Linked DNA regions of Homo sapiens. The protein of the gene in region 1 purifies or fractionates together with the protein of each later gene. This does not show direct contact. Each region holds a gene or a part of one and is shown in the gene's direction. Other genes may lie near its edges.

Region 1 (2,748 bases):
CAGAGGGATGGACTAATAAACTGAGGATTTGATTCCTTTGCATCTCTTCTTTGGGGCCCTCTGAATACCATTATCAGAAGATCAGTCTAGTGTTTATTTGGTACCTTTATAGTTCTGATTCTCTCTTTACTGTCTCTGTGGTCCCTTTTCTTCATGTTCCCTTCTAGATTCTTAATCATACACTCTTTCCCTAGTCCTAATAGCTGACAGATAGTTCAGAACTTCAGAATGAAACAAATATTACCTGAGTGGCAGGCAAGCCAAGAAGGGCTCTATACTTAATCCTTCTTGGCAGCAGGGAAACATGGTTCCTTCTGAGCGTTGGGGAACAGTGGGGTGGGAAGAAGGGCAGTATTAGTGGAGTCAGCAGAGTTTACAGGTGGGCAATAGATTGATTTCTTTTGCTCAGAATCGTTTTCCTGGGGGGCTTCTACAGATAAGGAAGCCCAGACATAACCAAGAGGCTCCTGTATAGAAATATTTGAGGAGGAGCATGAGAAGTCCATGAGGAGCTGGTGATGAAAATTGCCTGTCTCAGTTTCATTGGCTGCCCCATTGCTCACTGCATTAGGGAAGATATGAATCTGGATCAGAGTGGAGAAATGTACCCCTCTAGGCTTCCTCTGGATTCCCACTTGATACTCTACTCCCTTGCACAAGGGGCCAGAGGTGCAAGTGTCCTGTGAAATGTTCAAGGCAATAGCCAGATAAACTTAATAGGATTAAATATAACCCAGTTAAAATATAGTTTAGTTAATAGTTTTTTAGGAAGGAGATATATTGCTATGAACACAGACCATTACAAAGTGGTATGTCTTGAGGACTTATTTTAAGGTTAAAATTTTGTTAAACAGAAGTAGAAGGGGAGGGAAATTAAAGGTAAATGCAGAACAAAATCTTGGGGAAAGGGACAAGTACAACACAGGTAGGTGGAAAATGCTGCTTGTGTGGAAATAGTAGAATGAGGTCAGAAAGGGAGAGTGAGGCCAAACTCTGGGGGCAGGGTGGTTGCAGGAAGGTGCTGCCACTTCTGTTCATACTTGAAGCATTATTGCCACAGAAGCTCTATCTGCAAAGGAAGCACTATGGGCCAGAAGCCATTCCTATACCAAGTGAACATTCTCTGGGAGTACTTGCTGCTGGAGAGTCCAGCAATTTAGAAATCCATGCTGTCTTTTATGATATTTATACATATTCGGGAGTGCTTTCTGTTTCTATCACTTTCAGTAGACTCATCAGCTTCTAAGTCATTATAGAGAGGACCATAAAGTGCATCATGAGTCACACCAATGTTACCATCTTCCATCCTGCAGTTTTTGTCCTTCCTGGCATCCCTGGGTTGGAGGCTTATCACATTTGGCTGTCAATACCTCTTTGCCTCATTTACATCACTGCAGTCCTGGGAAACAGCATCCTGATAGTGGTTATTGTCATGGAACGTAACCTTCATGTGCCCATGTATTTCTTCCTCTCAATGCTGGCCGTCATGGACATCCTGCTGTCTACCACCACTGTGCCCAAGGCCCTAGCCATCTTTTGGCTTCAAGCACATAACATTGCTTTTGATGCCTGTGTCACCCAAGGCTTCTTTGTCCATATGATGTTTGTGGGGGAGTCAGCTATCCTGTTAGCCATGGCCTTTGATCGCTTTGTGGCCATTTGTGCCCCACTGAGATATACAACAGTGCTAACATGGCCTGTTGTGGGGAGGATTGCTCTGGCCGTCATCACCCGAAGCTTCTGCATCATCTTCCCAGTCATATTCTTGCTGAAGCGGCTGCCCTTCTGCCTAACCAACATTGTTCCTCACTCCTACTGTGAGCATATTGGAGTGGCTCGTTTAGCCTGTGCTGACATCACTGTTAACATTTGGTATGGCTTCTCAGTGCCCATTGTCATGGTCATCTTGGATGTTATCCTCATCGCTGTGTCTTACTCACTGATCCTCCGAGCAGTGTTTCGTTTGCCCTCCCAGGATGCTCGGCACAAGGCCCTCAGCACTTGTGGCTCCCACCTCTGTGTCATCCTTATGTTTTATGTTCCATCCTTCTTTACCTTATTGACCCATCATTTTGGGCGTAATATTCCTCAACATGTCCATATCTTGCTGGCCAATCTTTATGTGGCAGTGCCACCAATGCTGAACCCCATTGTCTATGGTGTGAAGACTAAGCAGATACGTGAGGGTGTAGCCCACCGGTTCTTTGACATCAAGACTTGGTGCTGTACCTCCCCTCTGGGCTCATGAATCTTCATGTCCAGCTCCTTCAAGGAAGCTAGATGTGAAATACAGAGATTTCCTGGACTGAGAAGGCTTTTCTTCCTCTTCTTTCTATTTCATCTTCCGCCCCCAACTTTTCTTTCTTTTCTCATAATTCTTCCTCCTTCTCTTGTTTGTTTTCTCTAACCTCTTTACATATTCCTCCCTACAACCCAGAAATAATAACTAAGTGTACATGCCTCTGATATGAGGCTTTGGTACCCTCAGTAGACTAGATAGACGCCAGAAGCGCAGGGATCTGAACACCACATGAAATGAGGTTATAAAGAAGTGGATAAAAATAATTTTATATTTACCATTTTAAGGGGTTTTAATTTTTTAAAAAAATCCCAAATGTGCATTGATTCTTTGTACAGAATCAAGTGGCCTGCCACCCACTACCACAATGGCAGGTGAGTTTGAGGAACAGCCATGCATGACCTTTGGTCATCTGGAAAAACTTCCTTTCCTTCAAATTTTAGTTCAAG
Region 2 (4,141 bases), on another chromosome or scaffold:
GCCATCATGCCCTGCCCATTAGTAGGTTTGATCCAATATCTTAAGTATATTGAGTTTCCTAGTACATGCCAAATTTACATAATCTTTTGTGGTTTTTTAAATAATCTCAGTGAAAATGGAATTAATTGCCTTATCGATATCATAGCCATTTACATTTCAAAATTCTCTAGGGGCTGGGTGCAGTGGCTCATGCCTGTAATCCTAACACTTTGGGAGGCTGAGGCCAGCAGATCACTTGAGCCCAGGAGTTCAAGATCAGCCTGGGTGAGATAGTGAGATGCTGTTTCTACAAAATAAAAATAAAAAGAAAGAAAGAAATTAGTCAAGCATGGTGGCACGTGCCTGAGGTTCCAGCTACTCAGGTGGCTGAGGTGGGAGGATTGCTTGAGCCCAGAAGGTCGAGGCTGCAGGGGGCTCTGATTGCACCACTGCATTCCAGCCTGAGGGACAAAGAAGGGCCCTGTCTCAAAAACAAAAACCACAAACCAAACAAACATAAAGGATCCACAAAAGTTCTCTAGGGACATAGTCAAAAACTGGTCCGAAATAAATATCCTTCCAGTGTTCAGTTTTACTGAACACATCTCATGGCTTTGGGTTTAACTGAATAATTCCTCACTGGGCACGGTGGTTCATGCCTGTAATCCCAACACTTTGGGAAGCCAAGGAGCATCACCTGAGCCCAGGAGTTCGAGACTAGCCTGTGCAACATAGTGAGACCACCCCACCACCGCCATCTCTACCGAAAAAAAAAAAAAAAGGAACTCCTTCTCTCAGACTAGGGCTGTGGGGTCCAAACTTCCCACTAGAGCAAAGTGTGGGGGGAGGGAAGGGATGGGTGACGGCCTAAACCCTGTCAGTTGTCAAAGATTAAAACGTAGTCACTCTTTGTTAGGTATGATGAGGTCACTCTGTCACTCTAAGTGTCTGTATTTGTAAACAAGAGTCAGAAATCCATGAATGGCCTCGCAGCCTTATGCTAAGTCTGGGAGCGTCTGACCCTTCCGTTCTAGTCTGGCATGGCCCGGGCGTCCTTTTTCGCTGTGGACAAAGAGCCTTTTTCTGGAAACTGAGCCTGGAATTTCCTGCGCTGTGCACGCTTGTGTCTCCGCGCTCAGAAGGAGCTGCAGGAAGACACCAGTGCCCGACCCCGGGTACGTTAACAAATTCTGCTTAGACGCAAATATCCGTGGCAGGGGAACAGATTCCTGACCCCGGACGAATGCAGGTTGCTTAGAGACGCGACTTCCCTACTAGCTGTCACTCAGGCAACGAAGGCGGGTCCAAGAGTGCAATGTCCAATCAGGGGCGCCGCCGGGAAGGCGGGCGGAGGGGCGCTGCGCAAACGGCGAGGGCGTGGCTACCAGCCGCTGCGCTCCGCTCTGGGGTCTCCTCACCCCAGAAGGCCCTCAGGTGGAGGAAGGGCCTCAGGTGGAGGTAGGACCTGTGCTGGCCGCGGGAGAGGTAAACAGAACACCAGGACATCCCAGAGTCTGGGAAATGGTAAGTGTGCGGGGCTGGGGGTCTTGAGATGGGAGAGAGGGGCGGGTTGAAACCGGCCGGATCTGGCTGTGGTGGGACCCAGGCCTCCCCGCCGTTGTCTCCCGGGTCTGTGGACCCGAGTCCTCCTGGCGCAGCTCGGCCCTCGGTCTCTTTGGCCGCAGGATGGGGCTGGGCCGGCAGCCGGGACCCCGGACGTCTTGTCAAGTCCCTGCGCGGCGACTGCGGCCCCAGTCCCGGAGCCCTCTCTGGGCAGCTCCGAGCCCGCAGCCTCGCGTCTCCCCAGATTGTGCTGGGGCACGGGAGGGTCATGGAGGGAATCCCGTCTCGGTCGTGGGGTTCGTGCGTGGGAGGAGCAGTGTTGTGTGGGGTCCTCAGTCCCTCTTTTCTTCCCAAGGGAGGACTCGTTTCTCAAGGTTTCCAAGTGTATGGGAAGCCAGATCTCAAACCCACGACCGTGTCCTCCAGCCTGGCTCTTCCCAGAGCTGGGATTAAATCCCTAAATTTCTAGATCTCTTTCAAATGCCAATGTCTTCTCTCCAGTTCACAACGTCGTTATTTCAACCAGACGCAGTATTTTAATTATCCTTTTTGTACAGAGGAATGGATGGTTCTTTTAAAAAGATTTAACGTATGCTTTGGGGTATTTATATGAGAGGAAAACAGAGGAGAAGGACTTGAAGCTACCTCGTGTAAAATGCTTGTGCCTCTCTTGCCAGTATCTCTCCTGGGACCTGACATCCTATGGGAACTCCTTTGGGTTGAGTCTCCTTTTTGGAAACTTTTCTGGGAGATCTGTCCTTTCCAGCGCAGCACTTCCCCTCCCTGGGCTTATCACCTTGAAAAGATTTACTCACTTAATTGATTCTCAAAAAATGTAAAATATACGTAATTAGGAGACCTACAGCCCAGCCAACATGGCGAAACCCCGTCTCTACTAAAAATATAAAAAATTAGCCGGGCGTGGTGGTGCACATCTGTAATCACGGCTACTCAGGAGGCTGAGGCAGGAGAATCACTTGAACCCGGGAGGCAGAGGTTGCAGTTGAGATGAGATTGCGCCACTGCACTACAGCCTCGGCGACAGAGTGAGACTCTGTCTCAAAAAAATAAAAAAATAAAATAAAATAAACCTTTAGAGTGGATGTAAAATATTTCCAAAGAGGCAAGAAAGAGATGGGTTTCAGAAAATAATAAAATATCAAGCTAGGAGCGTTGGCTCACGCCTGTAATCTCAGCACTTTGGGAGGCTGAGTCAGGAGGATCGCTTGAGCTCAGGAGTTCAAGACCAGCCTAGGTGACATAGAGAGACCTCATCTCTACTAGAAAAAAAAAAAAAAAAAAAAAAAATTAGCTGGGCGTAATGGCCTGCACTTGTAGTCCCAGCTACTTGGGAGGCCGAGGCGGGAGGATTGCTTGAGCCTGGGAAGTTGAGGCTGCTTTGAGCCTTGATCATGCCACTGCACTCCAGGCTGAGCAAGGTCTCACACCTTGTCTCAAAAACAGAAAATAATAATAATGAAATATCCCAGTATGATATTGCATTTATTAAAAATTTTTGTTTCTCTTTTTTTCTTCTGAGAATGTATAGCAAGTTCCTCAGGTCTGTTCTTTCCTTTTCGGTGATTTCAAATGGAATTCCATTCTGGGCTCAGGTTATCCACCTGCCTCAGCCTCCCCTTTGATTTCTTCAAACACAGGGTTTGTCTCATGTAAATATCAGTAGTGGTCCAGGTCACTTGACTGGAGAGCAAAGAGGACTCAGGTCAGTGACTCCAAGCTCTAAGACCAACCCTTGGGTCTCCCAAGGGATGTAATCGAAGGCCCAGTTGTTTCTTCCTAGGGAGCCTCCCCTGCAGGTGTCCTACCTGCTCATACCTACTGTGGAAGGAGCCCTTTGTACTGAGAGAAGCTGCTGAGCACTGGAAAGCTGGGGATCTGAATGCACGTTGGGGGATTGGCTGAATCCAGTGATGCCCTTCCTGAGGGCATAATTGTGGTTTCCTTGGGCCTATTTTTAGACATTAGGTTTGAGTTTTGCATCTGTTGTGTAGGTGCACTCAGTGTAATTTTTCTATAGTGAGAAAGTCTGTAAAGGCCAGGAGATCTGTCTCCTGGACACAGGATGAATGAACTGGGGAGTTCATTTGGGTCAGAACCTTAATCTCAGTCCAGTTGAGAGTTTCCTCACTTACAACAATTGAAGGGGCGATTTCCCTGTCACCAGGGGTGAGGGAATGTGTGGAGCTCGCTGAGTTCATTCCTTTGGCTCCTCAGGTGCCCCTGCCCTCTGTCACCAGGGACTGTCTCACTCTAAAGGTTGTTGCCCAACAGCAAGAATGTGGGCCCCAAGCTTGTGTATGTGTTTAGCTTTCTGAGTGTGGGTTTTCCTTCTGAATTGTGGAGAAGCAGTCTGCTAGTCTGAGCTGACTTGAGAGGGAGAGGGAGAGAGAGAGGGAGAGGGAGAGGGAGCGTGTGTGTGTGTGTGTGTGTGTGTGTGTTTGTGTGTGTGTGTGTGTATTTTAGAGGTGGGTTCTCACTTTGTTGGCCAGGCTGGTCTCAAACTGCTGGCCTCAAACAGTCCTCCCACCTTGGCCTCTCAAAGTGCTGGGATTACAGATGTGGCTTGGCTTTCCTTTCC
Region 3 (3,500 bases), on another chromosome or scaffold:
ACCATCTGACCTATTACATGTTTGATTTTCTGTTTCTTGCCTCTCCTAAAGGCATTTTTGACTGTTCTATAATATATCCCTAGTGCCATGGTGTTTGATCCAGTCATGTTTAGTAAGCATTTATTGAATGAATGAATTCATAAGGTACAATATCTAAAAGATAGAAAAGAGGCTGGGCACAGTGGCTCACACCTGTAATCCCAGCACTTTGGGAGGCTGAGGCGGACAGATCACTTGAGGTCAGGAGTTCGAGACTAACCTGACCAACGTAGCAAAATCCTGACTCTTTCTAAAAAACTACAAAAATTAGCCAGGCATGATGGCACATGCTTATAATCCCAGCTACTCGGGAGGTTGAGGCAGGAGAATCGCCTGAACCTGGGAGGCAGAAGTTGCAGTGAGCCAAGATCGCACCACCGCACTCCAGCCTGGGTGACAGAGGGAGATCCATCTCAAAAAAATAAATAAAATAAAAAAGGTTTCGACTGAAAAGTTTCCTTTGCACCCTTGCCTCCCAACCACCTGTTTCCCTTTCTAGAAGTCTCCAGTGTTTCTCGAGATATTATCATATGTATGTTTTTCCCCTAAATGTTCTACACCTTGCTATTCTGATTTTTAGTTTATATGTCCTGCAAATCATTTCAAGCGAATACATAAATACATTTCTTCTTGGGTTTTATGACTAATGGCTGAAACGTGATGAACTGTGGGTGACTGAGCCCTCTATACAATTTGGGTTATTTGTTTCTCTTTTGGATAAGTAACTTTTTTTTTTGAGACAGTCTCACTCTGTTGCCCAAGCTGGAGTGCAGTGGCACGATCTCAGCTCACTGCAGCCTCCACTTCCCAGGTTCAAGCAAATCTCCTGCCTTAGCCTCCCGAGCAAGTAGCTGGGACTACAGGCACGTGCCACCACACTGGGATAATTTTTGTATTTTTAGTAGAGACAGGGTTGGCCACCATGTTGGCCAGGCTGGTCTCGAACTCCTGACCTCAGGTAATCCACCTGCCTTGGCCTCCCAAAGTGCTGGGATTAACAGGCATGAGCCACCGTGCCCAGCCTGGATAAGTAAATTTTAAAAAGCAAACAAAACAATTACTTTGGGTACCGTTTTATGTATACTTGTTCATCATACTGCCAGTTCTTTTTCTAATTCTCCCATGATGTTACATAATTATACATACTTTATAGAGATAGGGATTAGTAATACTGTAAGCATAGGATTATCCAGTTTATAAAAGCTTCCCTACCTTCAGTTCTGTGACCTTAGGTATGTCACTTTCATCTCTGGGCCTGAGCTTTCCCATCAGCTGAAACAGGTGAGTGATTCTCAGTGGGATGGTAGTGAGGAAAAAATTGGAGAGTAGGAGACTGCTTTCAGAATGTACTTCCTCTTGGACACTCTGCTACACCCTTCATTGAGGTACTCCCTGGTAGAAAACCATTGCCTTGATAAGTCACTTCAGTTACTTAATTGAAGTATTGTATCCCTTGGGCATGCTGGTTAGGAAAAATTTAGAACCCTCAAACTGAGTGACCTTTTTACACTCAGTTACAGCATTTGATGATCCCTACAGTCTACATGCATGTGTGCTTTGTATACTGAATGGCTGATGCCAAAGGTATTTCTTAGGTCTCAGATCTCTCGAGGCAAAAGGGATCTTTCTATACTTTTCTTTCCTAAATGTTAAGGTAAAATATGAAGGATAAAAGAATTTAAGATGTTGACTTATTATCCCCCTTCCAGTTGTAAAAGACATTTTAATAATTTTTGTAGAATTTAATCAGACAGGTCAGAACTCCTTGTGAATACAATTGTGAGACAGTTTTTTGAATGCCGTTCTCATGGTGCCTCAGTCAAGCTTACCTGGTGGATTTGTGTCTGGCAGGGAGTGAAGAGCAAGGCCAGCCTACCCAACTTTCTTGACCACATCATTGCCTCAGTGGTAGAAAATAAGAAAACCTCAGATGCTTCAAAGCGGGCCTGCAACTTGACTGATACCCAGAAGGAAGTGAAGGAGATGGTGATGGGGTTAAATGTGCTAGATCCCCATACTTCTCACTCCTGGCTTTGTGATGGGAGGCTTCTGTGTCTCCATGACCCCAGCAACAAAAACAATTGGAAGATCTTCCGGGAGTGTTGGAAGCAAGGTCAGGTAAGCAAGAATAAGTCGTTCCAAGGGCCAATTCTCTGCCTGCCTACCACAGATACCTGGACAATTCCAGGTCTCTCTTTTTGCCAGGGAGATTTAGACATAGTGAGGTTATTGTAATAGCCTTGCTACTTCGAGTTGTCTTGGATTTTTAAAAGCAAGGAGATGGCCAGGCACTATAGCTCACGCCTGTAATCTCAGCACTTTGGGAGGCCAAGGCAGGCGCATCATCTGAGGTCAGGAGTTTGGCCAACATGGTGAAATCCTGTCTCTACTAAAAATACAAAAAAAATTAGCTGGGCATGGTGGTGGGTGCCTGTAATCCCAGCTGCTTGAGAGGGTGAGGCAGGAGAATCACTTTACCCGGGAAGCAGAGGGTGCGGTGAGCCAAGATCATACCACTACATTCCAGCCTGGGCTACAGAGCAAGATTCCACCTCAAAAATAAATAAATAATAAATAAATAAAAGCAAGGAGATTACTAAAAACACACTTTGCATCCTCTTGTTTCTAAGCTGTATAGTTCTGTGTTCTTAAAAAGGCAGTTGAAATTTCTGTTAGGTGGTGATCTGGCATTGATATCTTTAGAGAAAAATCCTTAAGTGTGATTTTAAGATGGGGCAGAGAAGGGGTTGGAGGTAGGTAGTACTTTTCTAGGCAAATGTTTTAAGGCCACACAAGTTTTTTGATAGTGTGATAACACTCCCTAGTTTAAAAACTTTAGCAGGTGCTTGAGGAAGGGGAGCTCATGGCATTGTCATTTTCAATATGAGGAAGTGTTCTCAAAGTTGGACTTGTCAGATTTTTGTCCTTTCACCTTAAAACAATGGTAGGTATTAGGGCAACAGAAGTGATTTCCCCAGGGTGAGAATGAAGCATAACAATGGAGTAGAAGCATTTCCTTTCACTTTAGTTGACATGTGGAAATCCATGGATTATACAACTAGGAAAGAACAGTAGAGCTTCCTGGAGAAGAGGAGGCCCTCCTCAGGAAACCCTCCTATTCTGTCTCAGCCCTAGAGCTGGAAGTTTTTCCTAGATTGCTCTGATTGGGATATTTTTGTTTCCACAGCCAGTGCTGGTTTCGGGGGTACATAAAAAGCTCAAGTCTGAGCTCTGGAAGCCAGAAGCCTTTAGCCAGGAATTTGGAGACCAGGATGTAGACTTGGTGAACTGCAGGAACTGTGCTATAATTTCCGATGTGAAAGTTCGGGATTTCTGGGATGGTTTCGAGATCATATGCAGTAAGTAGCTTTCATATCTAGTTCAGTGATAGCAGACTGGAAAATAAGCATCTATACGCCCAGCTCTGCCCTTGAATAATAAATTATATTCTGGGGCATAAT
Region 4 (3,959 bases), on another chromosome or scaffold:
CTCCCTCTACAGGGACGTGGGACGGGAGAGCTTTTATGAAGCACAGTAGTGAAAAGACCAAAAGATTTGGATTCAGTGGCTATTCCAGTTACTGACTCTATTTCCTTGGGCAACTCAAATCAATGCATGGCAGCCAGTGTGTTATGAGCTACCGGAAGTATACAGAAAAGTACCAGAAAAAATACAAGCATTATCATCAGTCGCTGTCAATTAAATAACTCTGTTACATTTCAACAGTGTTCGTAACCACTTGACATTGATGTATTTGTGTAATTTCTATTATCTGTTTTTCCCACAAAGCTGTAGCTCCATCCAAAGTGGGCAACTGAGTGTCTTGGTCAGTCATGTGCAGCCTGATGACCCTTGAACAGTTGCAAAAGTGCGCCTAGGGCTTGTAGCATTTACTTAAAAGGGGATAATAAACTCTCACGGCCAGTGCTGGGCTTATTGCCTTGTTTGGGAATTTCTCCATTCAAGGGTTTTATGTTTGGGGATGTGCTGGCCCTATTTTTTTGTTTGTTTGTTTTTTGAGACGGAGTCTGGCTCTGTCTCCCAGGCTGGAGTGCAGTGGCACGATCTCGGCTCACTGCAACCTCCGCCTCCCAGGTTCAAACGATTCTCCTGCCTCAGCCGCCGAAGTAGCTGCGATTACAGGCGCCGCGCCACCACACCCAGCTACTTTTTTTTTATTTTTAGTAGACACGGGGTTTCACCGTGTTAGCCACCGATCTCCTGACCTCGTGATCCGCCCACCTCGGCTTCCCAAAGTTCTGGGATTACAGGCGTGAGCCACCGCGCCAGGCCGCTGGCTCTATTTTCACCGCTAGCTTTGGATCCCTTTCTTCCCTGAAGGAAAAGAGGCCTCCAGGGCAGCCGTGCAGAACCGATGGGAGGGATGTAGGATAATACGCCAAAGCCGATAGAGTTCTGGAGCGCGCCTGGGCATCAGAGCGTGGAAGACAAGTGTCCGCGGAAGGAGGCGAAGGATGCTGGACAAGCCCCGCCGCCCGCCGCCCGCCGCCCGCCGCCCGCCGCCCGCCGCCCGCCGCCAGCGGCCCTGGGCCCAGGGAGAAGCAGAGATGTTGGCCCTCCCAGTTTCCTAGAGAGGCCGCAGAGGGCCCGGGGAGGCGACGCGCGTGCGCAACTGGGGAAGCTGGGAGGTAGGCGCGGGGCGGTCGGCTGCGGTGGCGGCGTTTGGATGATTGTCTCTCGGCGGCGGAGTCGGTGAGCGGCCCGGCGGGGCGCGGGGTGCGGAGCGGGGGCGGCTGTGCGTGCGAGAGTGGCAGGTGAGGCCGGGCCTGGAGGCTGCACCCGGGGCGGGGGTCTGGCCGTGGATCCCGCCCGGCCGCGCCGAGGGCATACCTCTTCGCCCCCCGGGCGTCTGGGGCAGAGAATCTGGAAAATTCCCGGTTTCTTCTGGCTTTATCTTTTCACCCAATTATGCGAATAAAGCGTACTTATTAGAGACAATTAGATAAGTGGAAGAAAAGTGAAAGTAGCCACCGTCCGGAAATCTTAGTCTCCAGGTCTCCTGACATTGAAAACATCTGGCATAGACTTCTCCCTTTTTCTTGTCTTATTTCACTTCCTGGCACCTGTCGCCGTCTAACATAGCATGTATTTGTTTATTGGTTATCTTCCCATAAGCCCCTTGCCAGGGCAGTGCTTTCTGTTTGCTTTATTAACTGCTGTTACCTTAGTGTATGGGAAATAGTAGGTGCTCCTAGAAGGTGTTTGTTAAATTAATGAAAGAAGGAATATCTAAACTGGGAGACAAGAAGAATTGACAGTTTTTAATGTCTTTTTTTTTTTTTTAAATAGCCCATTGCCAAGTTAAGAATGTAAGAGTGACCTTGAGCCTGGAACATTTCCTTGCAGAGTTAGAGCCCTCACAGCCTGTGCTGCTGCATTTAATGCCTTGTGTCTTTCAGTGTTTCAGGCTTCATGTGTACTCCTTTGTTGTGTTTAATCTCTTAAGTCAGTGGCCTTCATTCATTCTCTCAGCCTTCTGTATTTCACACCCCATAGGAGTGGGGAGGGTGGATTGAGATCTTTCTTCCTTACTAAGTGGGGTGTGTGCATCACACCAGCCCTATAGCTGTGGAGTGGATCTGCTGGGTGTGGGGGCTCTTTGCATTGCAGGAGGCTGGATCTTGTTCCCTGTTTCTCCTTTTGCTGTAAGTATACGCTGTACCTCTTGGGGCCTGATGTGGTTGGTATCTGTCCTCAGCGACCTCAAATCATGTGCTATCCCTTCCTTGGATGGCCTTTTAATCTTGGCAGCACAGCCTGGCCACCTGGTGAATAGTGGAACAGTCATGGTGATGCATAAGGATCTAGTATGTTCCTTTTAGGTGCTGTATGGTATTTCATCCTATAAAAATGCTACTTTTATTTAGCCATATTGATGGACAAGTAGGTTAAATCCAGTATTATGTTATTACAGAGAATATTTTAGTAAATACCTGTGTAAATGTCTGAATACCCGTGCAAGTGTTTTTCAGGGCAGATTCTTACAAGTTAAATTCCTGTAGCGTAAGGAATATGTCTTTTTAGTTTTACTGTGGACTTTCAAACTATCCTTCCTGTTGGCTATTACATTTCCACATCTATTAGTGGTTTGTGTTTGGTGTTTTTTTCTTTTGCTTTTCTTTTGGACAGAGATTTTTTTCATATTGATGTATTCAAATATATTCACTCTTTTCATTTTGTTGTCTTAAGAAATTCTTGGTTACACCAGGGTTCTTAGAGTCTTTATGGTTTTTTTCTTTTTTTTTTTTGAGACAGAGTCTCACTCTGTGTCACCCAGGCTGGAGTGCAGTGGCACAATCTTGGATCACTGCAGCCTCTGCCTCCTGGGTTCAAGCAATTCTCTGCCTCAGCCTCCCGAGTATCTGAGATTACAGGCGCCTGCCACCACATCTGGCTTTTTTTTTTTTTAAAGTAGAGATGGGATTTCACCATCTTGGTTAGGTTGGTCTTGAACTCCTGACCTTGTGATCCACCCACCTTGGCCTCCCAAAGAGCTGGGATTACAGGCGTGAGCCACCGCACCCAGCCTTTTAGCTTTGTTTTTTAAGTTTCTTTATTTTTTGTGTGATTTTACTTACTATTTTTATTTGCCTAGCCAATTGTCCCAACACAATTCATTGACTAGTTTAATTTTTCCCACTGACTTGTAATGCTACTGTTACCAACTCTCAAGGGAAGTCGTTTGACTTCAGTGGGTCCTTTACCTGCCTGGTGGTGTTCATGCCAATAAAATGAGACCAAGTTTCGTTAAGCAGTGCAGAAACTTTATTTGTTGATGAAGGAATGGAGAAGGAAAAGCTCATGCTCAAAGTACCCTCCTCTGGGTGTGGTGAAGAGGGATTTTTAAGGTCTCTTAGGGCATGTAGTGGGGCAGAGATCCTGGAAAGAGGTGGGGCCCTATGGGAAGAACTGGAGTGTGCTCAGTCTCATTCTTTTTTCTTTCTTTCTTTCTTTTTTTTTCTTTTGCGATGGAGTTTTGCTCTTGTTGCCCAGGCTGGAGTGCAATGGCTTGATCTTGGCTCACCGCAACCTCCGCCTCCCAGGTTCAAGCAGTTCTCCTGTCTCAGCCCCCCAAATAGCTGGGATTACAGGCATGTACCACATGCCTGGCTAATTTAGTATTTTTAATAGAGACGGGGTTTCTCCATGTTGGTCAGGAGGGTCTTGAACTCCTGACCTCAGGTGATCCACCCGCCTTGGCCTCCCAAAGTGCTGGGATTACAGACGTGAGCCACCGCGCCTGGCCAGTCTCATTGTTTCTTTTGTACCCAGCACTATATGTGCCTAGCAAGTGTATTTCTCCCTTCTAGGTGGAGATTTTAATATGGTAATGAAGCAAGGATTCAGGCCTGGGTAGCACTGCTGAGCTAAGTTCTCCTTTGTGGTTACTGATATTTAGCCTTTTTCTCTCTAAGCAAGCACAGCTG
Region 5 (3,500 bases), on another chromosome or scaffold:
TCACTTTTTAGTACTAAAATTAAGAAAATGAAAACTCACAGATATATTTTCTGTTATGTAACCCGTTTACTAGTTGCCATTTTGGGGCTCTTTAATGTGGGGAAAAGGTAGATTGTGATTTTATTGCTTTTAAAGCTGCTCCATTAATTTTTTTCTAGTTTTTGTCAACACTGTGAATTTCATAGAACATCAGTTTATGTCCTGAAATATGTTTTCAGAAAATAGAAAGCCAAGTATATTTCGTAAGTGTGCTGAATGATTTTTGTTTATAATTAAGATTTTTGTATATGAATGTGAATACGAATACAGATATCTATATTTTTGTTTGTGCTTGCAAATACAGAAATAAAAGCCCTTCAGGTATGTTATAGTGTTCCTTTTACAACCTTACAAAGAGAATAATAGTAGTGTGAATTTTAAGAAAATGAAACTATCGCTTGTCTTCTGATGTCACCGTATAATAAAGCCATCATTATACCCTCATGTGGATATCCTAGACAAGAGGTTCTACATGTGGTCCCTTGATAATTGCCTAAATTAAAATATTAAAGGCCTAACAGCCGCTGTGTTGACCTTTTTCTGCCTTGCTGCAGACAGATGAGCTGCTGTTTATTAGGAAGGCTTCTTCCCACAGGTGGAAGGCTACGTGAGCTTCCGCTCTTCTCTTCCCACCCCTTTACAATGTTGGGCATCAAAGTCCTGCTGTTCCAGCAGCTTTGATTCAGTTCCTCCATCCTCAAGACCCCTAGGATGTGCCTGACAGTCTGAAGTATTTTGATTAGCTTTTAAATACTTCAGATTCCAAAACTTCTTTCTAATAATTTAATAAATGTTCTGTCCTCAGTAACTGCTCATTTTTAAAGTTTTGCATGGCTAACCTCCGTGCCTTGCTGCTGGTATCAAACTGGGAAATGAAAACAAGAATCAGTGATGTACTAACTCACTCGTTGGCTGGTTAACAGCAATCAGCCTCTTCAAAAGAATATTTTGAACTTGTGCTATCCCCCTACCCCCCACCCCAAGAAAATCACAAAATCAGAACTCTAATTGGGGCTTTACAAAGCAAAGCCATAGGAAAAGCTGTGTAAACATGAAAGCCTCAGGGGAGCAACAGTAACAGAAAAATAGTGTTTTACAGTTGAGAGGGTGAGGCAGAAAAGGAAAGTGTTACAGACATGAAAGGCCCAGGCCCACATTCCTATGGAGCTGAGGACCAGGCTTGACGAGGGGCCTCACTGGTGGGCTCAGAAGGGTCTGGCAGGGAGTGCAGTTAGCAAGGGCATCGTCCATGCCATGCTTCAGCTGGAAGACACCATCAGAGAGCCACAGCATCCTGGCATAGTGATGTAGGAAGTCTTCATTTTTTATTTTTTATTTTTGCTGTTTTTTAGTTTCGTCATTCAGTGGCAGAACAAAAAATGTGTTGCATTACATATTAACGGATCAAGATTTTAGATTGTTTTCCTATTTTCCAGAAGTTGAAATGTTATTTGAGATTGAAATTCTCTATCCATTTTCTCCATGGAAATGAAATTGGTGGTTACAAAAAAATATCTACACAATATGAATTACTTTTCTTTTTTTCTTTTTTTCTCCCAGGTCCGAGTGGACAGTGGCATCCAACCAGGAAGTGATATTAGCATTTATTATGATCCTATGATTTCAAAAGTTAGTTTAATTTCTCAATGGATTATTTGATTTCTTCGAAAAATCAATGATATTTAAAGAGTCTGAAACTGGGCCTTTATCTGAATCATAAGCTATAATTAAACAACTAATTATGCACTGATGTAAATGTGAAAGCAGAGCAGGTTTTTTCTCTTGAGAGAAAATTCAGCGTTATGTTAGTTTGTAGTACTCCTCCTCCCCAACTAAATCATGCCACACCATCACACACATGCATGAACAATAATAATAATAAACATCTAACCAGTGGTGCCAGCCTAACTCATTGCCATGAGAAGGAATTAAGGTTTTTTTTGGCCATTGGCAGAAATTACCTGAGATGGAAGTATGAATGAATGGCAAGAGTTGGGCTGATAGGCAGTGTTTGTTAGAGTACTTTTTGATCTTTTCTCTTCAGTTTTTACAAATTACCAATTATTTAAGTAGATGTGATGTAAGAGTATAAGATTTGTTTTGCCCACCTGTCTTTTTGAAGTTTGACTTTCCAGAATAAATGAATTGAATTTTTGGATCTTTAAACCCTTAAAACCGTATAAAGTGTAAAATGCTGTAATAATTAAGATTGTGGATTTTATTTTTATTTTATTATTATTTTTTTGAGATGGAGTCTCGCTCTGTCCGCCAGCCTGGAGTGCAGTGGCACGATCTTGGCTCACTGCAACCTCCGCCTCCCAGGTTCAAGCGATTCTCCTGCCTCAGCCTCCTGAGTAGCTGGGTGGCTCGTGCCACCAAGCCCAGCTAATTTTTTTTGTTTTTAGTAGAGATGGGGTTTCACCTTGTTAGCCAGGATGGTCTCCATCTCCTGACCTCGTGATCCGCCCGCCTCGGCCTCCCAAAGTTCTGGGATTACAGGCGTGAGCCACAATGGCCGGCCAGATTGTGGATTTTATTTTGAAAATTCTGTGTTCTCTGAAATGATACATCTGTATTGAGGAATGATTTGTTTTTCAAGCCTTGTTTCTCAAGATGGCTTTTCCCCAAGTGTCCTTTTTAATGTTATAGTTGCAGTAAACAAACACTTTTTTATCTGTCTTTCTTCAGTTAGGGTTTTAGTGCTTTTTTTTGGGATAGGGTCTCCCTTTTTCACCCAGGCTGGAGTGCAGTATCATGATCTTGGCTCAGTGCAGCCTTGACCTCCCAGGCTCAAGCGATCCACCTGCCTTAGCCACCCAAGTAGCTGGGACTACAGGTGTGTACTACCATGCAGGGCTATTTTTTTATATCTTTTGTAGAAATGGGGCTTCCTCATGTTACCCAGGCTGATCTCGAATACCTGAGCTCAAGCAATCCACCCGCCTCGGCCTCTCAAAGTGCTGGGATTACAAACGTGAGCCACCGTGGTTGGCCTAAGTTATTAGTAGTATTAAAATAAAATTTAGGTCTTTTGTTTATTAGAGAACCACCATTTAATTTAAAAATAAAACTATGTAAAAATATTATACGTTGATTTTTAAATATTCCATTTTTAGATGAATGTTTTTCTCTTCAGAAAAATGGCCTACAAATTAATTTTCAAATTTGCTTGATATTGAAGAGCTAGTAAAACCTACTAAAATAATCACAATCTATAGATTGGCTAATATAACTGCCAGAAAAATCTTTAATGAATAGTTAAGGTCTTATTTCATTGCCAAATTATAGAGATACATATAAGTAGGCACTAAATCATGTAGAATAGTAAGACTTTTCTGTTTTTTTGATTTCTGAAAAAGTACCATTTGCTTCTGTGTATATTATATGTAAAACTGCAAATGATTTCTAAGATAGTCGTCTTCTTTCTTTATACTTTTATTTTTGAAACTTTACTTTTTTTG
Region 6 (3,964 bases), on another chromosome or scaffold:
AATGAATGTTACAGATGCGTTAGCGCTTTGTGGAAGTTATTAGCCCGTTTTACTGGTGAGGAAACAGTCGCAGAATACCCACAAATATTTCAAAGATCACACACAAATAACAGTCCTTAATACTAATAGCCCCTAAATAATAATGCTGCCGGAGAGAGAATTCCAAAACCGCTCAGCCGAATCCACAGTTCGGGCTCTTCTACCATGTCGGGCTCCTTCCCCTGGGTTGGAAGGGCTCAGGCTGGGGCGGGGTGGGGGAGACAGACAGGAGCCCCTGTGCTGGGTAAGTACCAGTATCTGCGAAGGAGGCACGAACCAGATGAGGCAAAGGTCGTGTCCCCCGCAACTCCGCTGAAATCCTGCCCACCGAGAGGAAGCACAATTATGAGTGAATGGGCTTGTGCGTCCTGATGAGAATCCAAAATCGAGAGGAAGGTGGAAAGAGCCAGGACGCGCTGGGAGGGGATGAAGCTGACGGGAGAAGAAAGGGCTGGGAAGAGGAGGGGTGTTCGGGGTTCTTCTTCTCGTCGTGTCTGCTGCGATGAGACACGATCCTGGGTCCCAACTGCAGGTGTCAAGGCGATTCAGTAAATGACACATGGCAGCCCCGGAGGGTTCGTTCACCTGCACAGGTGGGGCGTCACCGTGGCCTAATCAAATAACTTCTCCCCAATTTGAGGTGGGGCGGGGGAGAGAACTATTTTTGTGGGAAAGCGGTTTAGTAAATAAGGTATATTGGGGCTCTAGAGAGAATTGCAGTGCCACCACCATGGCTATGATCTCCGTCAGGCACCATTTCAACACCTCTCCAAATCAACCATCCCTACAACAGGATTTATTTTCCAATGAGCGAAATCCCCGCCCGCCAACTCCAAGGCGCTTGGATGCGAGCTCTGTGGGAAACAGCAGCGACGAGCAGAGGCTATTTTGGGTGTGGGAACGAGGAGGGAGGAGGGGCGGCGCCGCCAGGCTGGGCGCGGGTGCGCGGGGAAAGCCTCCAGCTCGGGCTGCCACGGCAACCGCGTCCAGGCAACGCGCCCGGAAGCGGCTCCGGCGGCGCGCGGCGGCTCGCGCCCCCCGGGAGCCGCGAACCCGGCCGGGCCGCGCGCCGGGCCAGGCGGCAGGCGCGCGCTGATTGGACGGCGCTCCCCGCGGCGCGGGCCCGCAGCCGGGCGCCCTGCTCAGCCAGCGCCAGCGGCCGCCGCACCCAGCCGCGCCGGCGAGGACATGGGCAGCCGCGGCGCGCCCACCCCCCGCGCCGGTGAGTGCCGCGCTCTGGGAACCCCGGCCGGGCGGCCTCTGGGGCTGGGCGGCGGGAGCTCTCTGGGACGGCCGGTGACCTTGGGGCAGCCTCTCAGGAGATAGGCGTGGGGTAGAGAGAGCTGCGCGTGGCCCATGTGACATGCCGCGGGCGAGAGGGTTAACTGCATGTGACGCGAAGGGCTGAAGTTGGGCACAGAGCGCAACTGGCGTTGCATTTTCGCGGGGGCTGCATGCTAGCGAACCAACCGACGCCCGGAGGGACTGTTTGGGGGAGCTGGGGTGGTGCACGGATTGCCAGGGGTAAAGGCGAGTCAGCCGACCCACTACTCAGAGTGAGTGACCTTGGGTAGGTTAACCATCTGCTCTTCCGCCCCTTCGCTTTTTCTCATCTTTCAAACGAGAGGCTAGGGGGTCTTTGCAGTTCCAGAATGCTGTTGTGCCATCCTACTGCGAGCTGAGAAAGAGCCCTAAAGTACGGTTCTGCAGGTACCGGAGATGCAAAGCTTAACCATGTTTATTCTAGGAGGGGTTTCCATTAATTGGCTCCTAAAGTGGTAAGAAATGTTATCGTTGTCTGGAAGATTATGGAGCAAGCAGTCGGTGGTCCGGAGAATGGCTTCTTAAGATGCACAGGTTAAAACCTCTTTGGTGCCCTAAAGACATGAACAAAATCAGGATTAATGCTCCTAAGTTCTTCTTTCCTGTAGTTAATCTAATAGGAAACTTTGTATTTGAACAGGTAAAATCAAAACCCAATCGTGGCAGGCAGCAGCAAATTAAGTGAGTCATTTCTTCAATGTGCACGAGGTTTATGTGTGTGTGTGCGCGCGTGTGTGTGTGTGCGTGTGTGCGCGTGCGCTCTCGTCCTCAGCTCAAAGTCTGCGTACGGCAGTGTTGGAAATTATTTCATAGGAGTAACCAGAAATAATGCTAGAATGATTCGAATCCACAAAAGTGCAGCTCTCTCAGAAGCAAGGGCAAACATTTGCAACTTGCTTTTAAAATAAGAGGTTTGTAGAGTAAATATATTCTTTATTGAGAACCATCCCCAGATTTGCACATTGTATCTGCCTTCTGGGCCCTGTCACTGAATGCGCGTGTGTGTATGTGTGTGTGTGTGTGTTGGGGGGGGCGGGTTCCTTGGCACTTATAATATTTTTAGCGTTGACTGGTACTAAAAAGGACACTTAGGCCCCCTTCCATATCCACTGTCTATAAACTTCCCTCTTCCACGGAGGGGAATGGAGGACGTACCCTCTCACAGGTACCCCTGGTTGCCCCTTCTGACTTTCTACTTAAAGCTACCCTTGATTTTCATTCGAATCTGATTTCATCTGTATAAGAACGTGGGTTGGGAAGACACAGTTTCCAATGCTAATGAATAAGCTTCTGCAAGCTTGTTTACCTGAGGGCTTAATAACCTTTAATGTGTTACATGTTAGAAATCTGATAGCATACGGATAGAAAAATACTTAGTGTCCAGGAATTCAACCATGAAGCCCTACCAACCATTTAATGAGCCACACTACATGGTGCTTGGAAACGTTATTAGCGCATTATTCAGCCTCCTCTCTCTGCAGGCCACTAGGCTGTGTCACTCCGACCTGGCTTTAAATGTCTTGTTTCTTGTATCCTGCAGCCACACTCTTGCATTTTCATTTTTTATGTAGCTGAACCCACCTTCTCTCCCGAGCACCAGAGCCTGAGTGAACAACTTGCCGCAGAAGAGCCTTCTCTAGTGTCCTCCACCGTCTCACCAGAGTAGGGATGCTCTTCCGCTTCTCCTTAGTGCTGCCTCCAAACCAATGCACCATCACCAACCAAGTCTCCTCTCGGAAGGTAGTGCTATCTGCTTGTGCCCCTACCCTCCTTCTTATCTTCTGGTCCAGTGCTTCCCAAACCTGGGGGCTCCTCAGAATCACCTGGGACATTTTGAAAAACTTGGTCTTTAGACTCTCTCAGATATACCAAATTAGAATCATTGGGGGCTGGGGCAGGGTGGGGGAGTAAGACCTAAAAATCCCTACTTTAAAAACAAACCCCAAAAGGAGGAGCAGCAGGAGACGATGAAGAGAAGGAACAGAACTCTCTGGGCAATTCTGATGTACACCCAGGTACAGTGGGGATCTCTTCACTTGATGCCCCAAAAAAGGGATAAACAAACAAAAAACGTGAGCAGCCAGCTTCATTCTCTTCTCTGCTTTGTCTCTTGCCAGTGACTTTGGGTTTTGTGTTGAAGCTCTCTTAATTCTTTGACCTTGAAGTTCCTCAACATCTATCCCAGTAGCCTCAGTTTCCACTTTGCTTCAACTAACATCTTGGACTTGTTCAGTCTTGAACAAGACTAAACCTTTGAGATCTTGAACTCGGACTTCAGCCTACTTAGCTGATACTACCCACATACTGCTCTGGATTTTAACCATCGCTGAGGACCCTGGTCCCTTAAGCACTTGCTGTTCCAATCCTTCAGCCCCTCTGTGACTCTGTTTCTCCACTTGGGGCATGTAAGTTGCTGGCCATTTCCATTCTGTCTGGGATCCCAGAATCCTTTGTTTCAATGTGTTGGGCTTCTTATATTTCAGTCCTCAATCCAAAATCACCCCCGCTTGCCTGCTTATTCTTCTCCCAGCCTGCCACATTATCTAGGAGGAAGTCACAAAGACCTTTGGACAGGTTCCATTGAAAATTTACGTTGGCTCTA
Region 7 (3,500 bases), on another chromosome or scaffold:
ATTCTCCCACCTCATCCTCCGGAGTAGCTGGGACTAAAGGCACCTGGCTAACTTTTGTATTTTAGGTGGAGACACAGTCTTGCCATGTCGCCCAGGCTGGTATCAAATTCCTGGACTCAAGTGATCCGCCCACCTCGGCTGATCCCAAAGTGCTGGGATTACAGGTGTGAGCCACCGCGCCTGGTCAAAAATCCTCTTGTTGAATATAAAACCTCCCAAATTTGAAATGTCACTGACCAAATACAAAAAAGTAAAAAGCGTTCTGTGGGTTTAGTAATACATCCACCGAGAGCTAGACTCAGCGTAACGTGTGCTGCATGGGCAGAAAAAAAGAATCTCAGTTCTCACCCCAGCCCCTCTGCTGACAGCTTCCGATCAGGCCTTTTACAGCAGATATTAATAACAGACAGTTAAGGAGTGCTCAGTGTGTGCTGGCCAGCCTGCAGCCTTCGCCGCAGGCCCAGGATGCAGGTGCTGTCCCCGTTTGATGAAAGTGAGGCTCTGAGTTAAGCAGAGTCATGAAGCAATTGAATGGCAGATGGTTTGGGATTCAGACCCAGGCAGGCAGGCTCCAGGGCTTACCCTACCATCTACTACCTTATCCCTTAGCTTGTCCCCTGGGCATGAAGAGACCAGTGAGACTTCTAGAATTCCGGTGCAGAGCCCTTCTGTTTAGTTTTGTTGAGATGGAGTTTTGCTCTGTTGCCCAGGCTGGAGTGCAATGGTGCGATATTGGCTCGCTGTAACCCCCTCCTCCCAGGTTCAAGTGATTCTCCTGCCTCAGCCTCCTGAGTAAGCTTGAATTACAGGTGCCCACCACCATGCCTGGCTAATCTTGTATTTTTAGTAGAGATGGGGTTTCACCATGTTGGCCGGGCTGGTCTCAAACTACTGACCTCAGGTGATCTGCCTGCCTCAGCCCCTGAAAGTGGTGGTATTACATGTATGAGTCACTGTGCCTAGCCCCAGTCTAGAGCCATTTTGCATACTTTATTTCATTGTTGTTTTTAGAGACACAGTCTTGGTCTGTGGCCCAGGCTGGAGTGCAGTGGTGCAATCATAGCTCACTGCAGCCTCCAACTCCTGGGCTCCAGTGATCCTCCTGCCTCAGCCTCCTGAGTAGCTGGGACTAGAGGCATGCAACTCCATGCCTGGCTATGTTTCCACACTTCAATATGCATGTAGCTTACCTGGGGATCTTGGTAGAATGTACCTCAGATCAAGTGGGTCTTGGGTGGGGCCTGAAATTTCTTTCTCTCTTTTTTTTTTTTTTTGAGACAAAGTCTTGCTCTGTCGGCCAGGCTGGAGTGCAGCGGCATTGATCTTGGCTCACTGCAGCCTCTGCCTCCTGGATTCAAGCGATTCTCATGCCTCAGCCTCCCGAGTAGCTGGGATTACAGGCAGGCACCTGTTACCATGCCCAGCTAATTTTGTATTTTTAGTAGAAACAAGATTTTGCCATGTTGGCCAGGCTGGTCTTGAACTCCTGACCTCAACTGATCGAACTGCCTCGGCCTCTGAAAGCACTGGGATTACAGGTGTGAGCTACTGTGCCTGGCCGAGAGATTCTGCATTTCTAACAGTTCTCATGTGCTGCTGGTGCATGGACCCCACTTGGAGAAGAGAGGCTCTGCAGAGCGGGACCCTTGTAAAGCTGGATCATCCTGTCTATAGTTCTTGTATCTATCACAGATGCCATTATGTTAATTAACTATATGGATTTTCTACAATTTCAAAAGGATTTGTTTTGGGTTTGTTTAAAAAGACTAATGTGGCTGGGCACGGTGGCTCATGCCTGTAAATACCAGCCCTTTGGGCGGCCAAGGTGGGAGGATCGCTTGAAACTAGGAGTTCATGATCAGCCTGGGCAACATAGTGAGACCCTGTCTCTATTAAAAAAAAAATTTGTTAAAGGCCAGGCATGGTGGCTCACGCCCGTAATCCCAGCACTTTTGGAGGCCAAGGCGGGCAGATCATTTGAGGTCAAGAGTTCGAGACCAGCCTGGACAACGTGATGGAACTCTGTCTCTACTAAAAATACAAAAATTAGCCGGGTGTGGTGGCACATGGCTATAATCCCAGCTACTCAAGAGGCCAAGGCAGGAGAATCGCTTGAACCTGGGAGGCGGAGGTTGCAGTGAGCTGAGATCACATCACCGCACTCCAGTCCGGGTGACAGAGCAAGACTAACATGTAAAAATAAGTATTTGTTGCAGTCATCACAAGGACTTGAAAAATTGGTTGTCATACGGGCCTTGGGTGTGTGATGCGGTTAACTACGGAAAGAAATAGGGTAGCTTTTGGGATCCGAGGAAAGGCGTCAGTGTCCCTCCTGTCCCGTGGTTTTGGATCTAGCGATGTTAACGCACAGACATGACTATAGGTTGGTGAGTTACATGCTCTTCCCTTTGCACACCCAGGCCTGGACGACTCCACCGGGGGGACCCCCCTCACACCTGCGGCCCGGATATCAGCCCTCAACATTGTGGGAGACCTACTGCGGAAAGTCGGGGTAAGACCACACTTTCCTGGCGTTTGGTGCCTTCCTGCCTGTCTTTCAGGATGTGTGAAGGGGGTTGATCTAGTTCCTTCCCTCTCTTCTTTTTTTCTTTTTTTTTAGAGACAGGGTCTTGCTCTGTTGCTCAGGCTGGAGTGTAGTGGTATGATCACAACTCACTGCAGCCTCAAAATCCTGGGTTCAAGCGATCCTCTCACCTTAGCTTCCCGAGGAGCTTGGACCACAGGTGTGCGCCACTATGCCTGGCTGATACTTTCATTTTTTTGTAGTAATGTGGGTATCGCTGTGTTGCCCAGGCTGGTCTTAAACTCCTGGCCTCAAGTGATCCTCCCAGGTTGGCCTCCCAAAGTTCTGGGATTACAGGCATGAGCCAATGCGTCCAGCCCCTTTCATAGCAGTGTGGTGAGTTTTAGGTGTGGCTGCTCCTTTAGCATCCCTGGGAATCATTAGAGCTTCCTGTGGGAGTTACTGCCAGACACTCAGAGCTCTGACTCGAAGCCCTGCTCTGAACCCTATGTATGTCTCTTTCCTTTTACCGTTTTTCCTCTAGGAAATTTGGGAAATTAGGGTGATATGTGTGTTTTTTCCTTAACTCGAAAAATTAAGGAGCACTTGGAAACTGCCTTCTCTTTTGGCCGGGTGCTCATACCTGTAATCCCAGTGCTTTGGGAGGCCAAGGTGGGAGATTACTTGAGCTCAGGAGTCTGACACCAGCCCGGGCAACATGGTGAAACCCCCTGCCCCGACTTGGCCTCTACAAGAATGCAAAAATTAGCCAGGCCTGATGGTGTACACTGGTGGTCCCAGCTACTCAGGAGGCTGAGAGGTGGGAGGATTGCTTCAGCCTGGGAGGTTGAGGCTGAGTGAGCTGAGATTCCAACACTGCACTCCATCCTGGGTGACAGCACGACGTTGTCTCAGAAGAGAAAAAAACTGCCACCTTTTTTTTTTTTTTTTTTTTTTTTGGTTTGTTTCTTGGGGT

Evidence for each region.
Region 2: the proteins of OR52B2 (region 1) and ZNF709 purify together in Homo sapiens (affinity purification with mass spectrometry; one large-scale study listed by BioGRID and IntAct). This does not show direct contact.
Region 3: the proteins of OR52B2 (region 1) and KDM3B purify together in Homo sapiens (affinity purification with mass spectrometry; one large-scale study listed by BioGRID and IntAct). This does not show direct contact.
Region 4: the proteins of OR52B2 (region 1) and ZNF852 purify together in Homo sapiens (affinity purification with mass spectrometry; one large-scale study listed by BioGRID and IntAct). This does not show direct contact.
Region 5: the proteins of OR52B2 (region 1) and PCCA purify together in Homo sapiens (affinity purification with mass spectrometry; one large-scale study listed by BioGRID and IntAct). This does not show direct contact.
Region 6: the proteins of OR52B2 (region 1) and FAM81A purify together in Homo sapiens (affinity purification with mass spectrometry; one large-scale study listed by BioGRID and IntAct). This does not show direct contact.
Region 7: the proteins of OR52B2 (region 1) and NDE1 purify together in Homo sapiens (affinity purification with mass spectrometry; one large-scale study listed by BioGRID and IntAct). This does not show direct contact.

What each region holds. Positions count from the first base shown.
Region 1 is NC_000011.10:6,168,855-6,171,602, reverse strand, and holds OR52B2 (olfactory receptor 52B2), read left to right. Parts: upstream 1-1,276; coding exon 1,277-2,248; downstream 2,249-2,748. UniProt on the Homo sapiens protein: Odorant receptor.
Region 2 is NC_000019.10:12,482,017-12,486,157, reverse strand, and holds the start of ZNF709 (zinc finger protein 709), read left to right. Parts: upstream 1-1,341; 5' UTR 1,342-1,500; coding exon 1,501-1,503; intron 1,504-4,141.
Region 3 is NC_000005.10:138,422,185-138,425,684, forward strand, and holds part of KDM3B (lysine-specific demethylase 3B), read left to right. Parts: intron 1-1,890; coding exon 1,891-2,157; intron 2,158-3,226; coding exon 3,227-3,398; intron 3,399-3,500. UniProt on the Homo sapiens protein: Histone demethylase that specifically demethylates 'Lys-9' of histone H3, thereby playing a central role in histone code. Demethylation of Lys residue generates formaldehyde and succinate. May have tumor suppressor activity.
Region 4 is NC_000003.12:44,507,818-44,511,776, reverse strand, and holds the start of ZNF852 (zinc finger protein 852), read left to right. Parts: upstream 1-1,159; 5' UTR 1,160-1,224; intron 1,225-3,959. UniProt on the Homo sapiens protein: May be involved in transcriptional regulation.
Region 5 is NC_000013.11:100,305,593-100,309,092, forward strand, and holds part of PCCA (propionyl-CoA carboxylase alpha chain, mitochondrial isoform a precursor), read left to right. Parts: intron 1-158; exon of another isoform or gene 159-242; intron 243-1,599; coding exon 1,600-1,668; intron 1,669-3,500. UniProt on the Homo sapiens protein: This is one of the 2 subunits of the biotin-dependent propionyl-CoA carboxylase (PCC), a mitochondrial enzyme involved in the catabolism of odd chain fatty acids, branched-chain amino acids isoleucine, threonine, methionine, and valine and other metabolites.
Region 6 is NC_000015.10:59,437,022-59,440,985, forward strand, and holds the start of FAM81A (protein FAM81A), read left to right. Parts: upstream 1-1,164; 5' UTR 1,165-1,261; exon of another isoform or gene 1,262-1,609; intron 1,610-1,634; exon of another isoform or gene 1,635-2,043; intron 2,044-2,933; exon of another isoform or gene 2,934-3,102; intron 3,103-3,964.
Region 7 is NC_000016.10:15,691,745-15,695,244, forward strand, and holds part of NDE1 (nuclear distribution protein nudE homolog 1), read left to right. Parts: intron 1-65; coding exon of another isoform or gene 66-124; exon of another isoform or gene 125-422; intron 423-2,420; coding exon 2,421-2,512; intron 2,513-3,500. UniProt on the Homo sapiens protein: Required for centrosome duplication and formation and function of the mitotic spindle. Essential for the development of the cerebral cortex.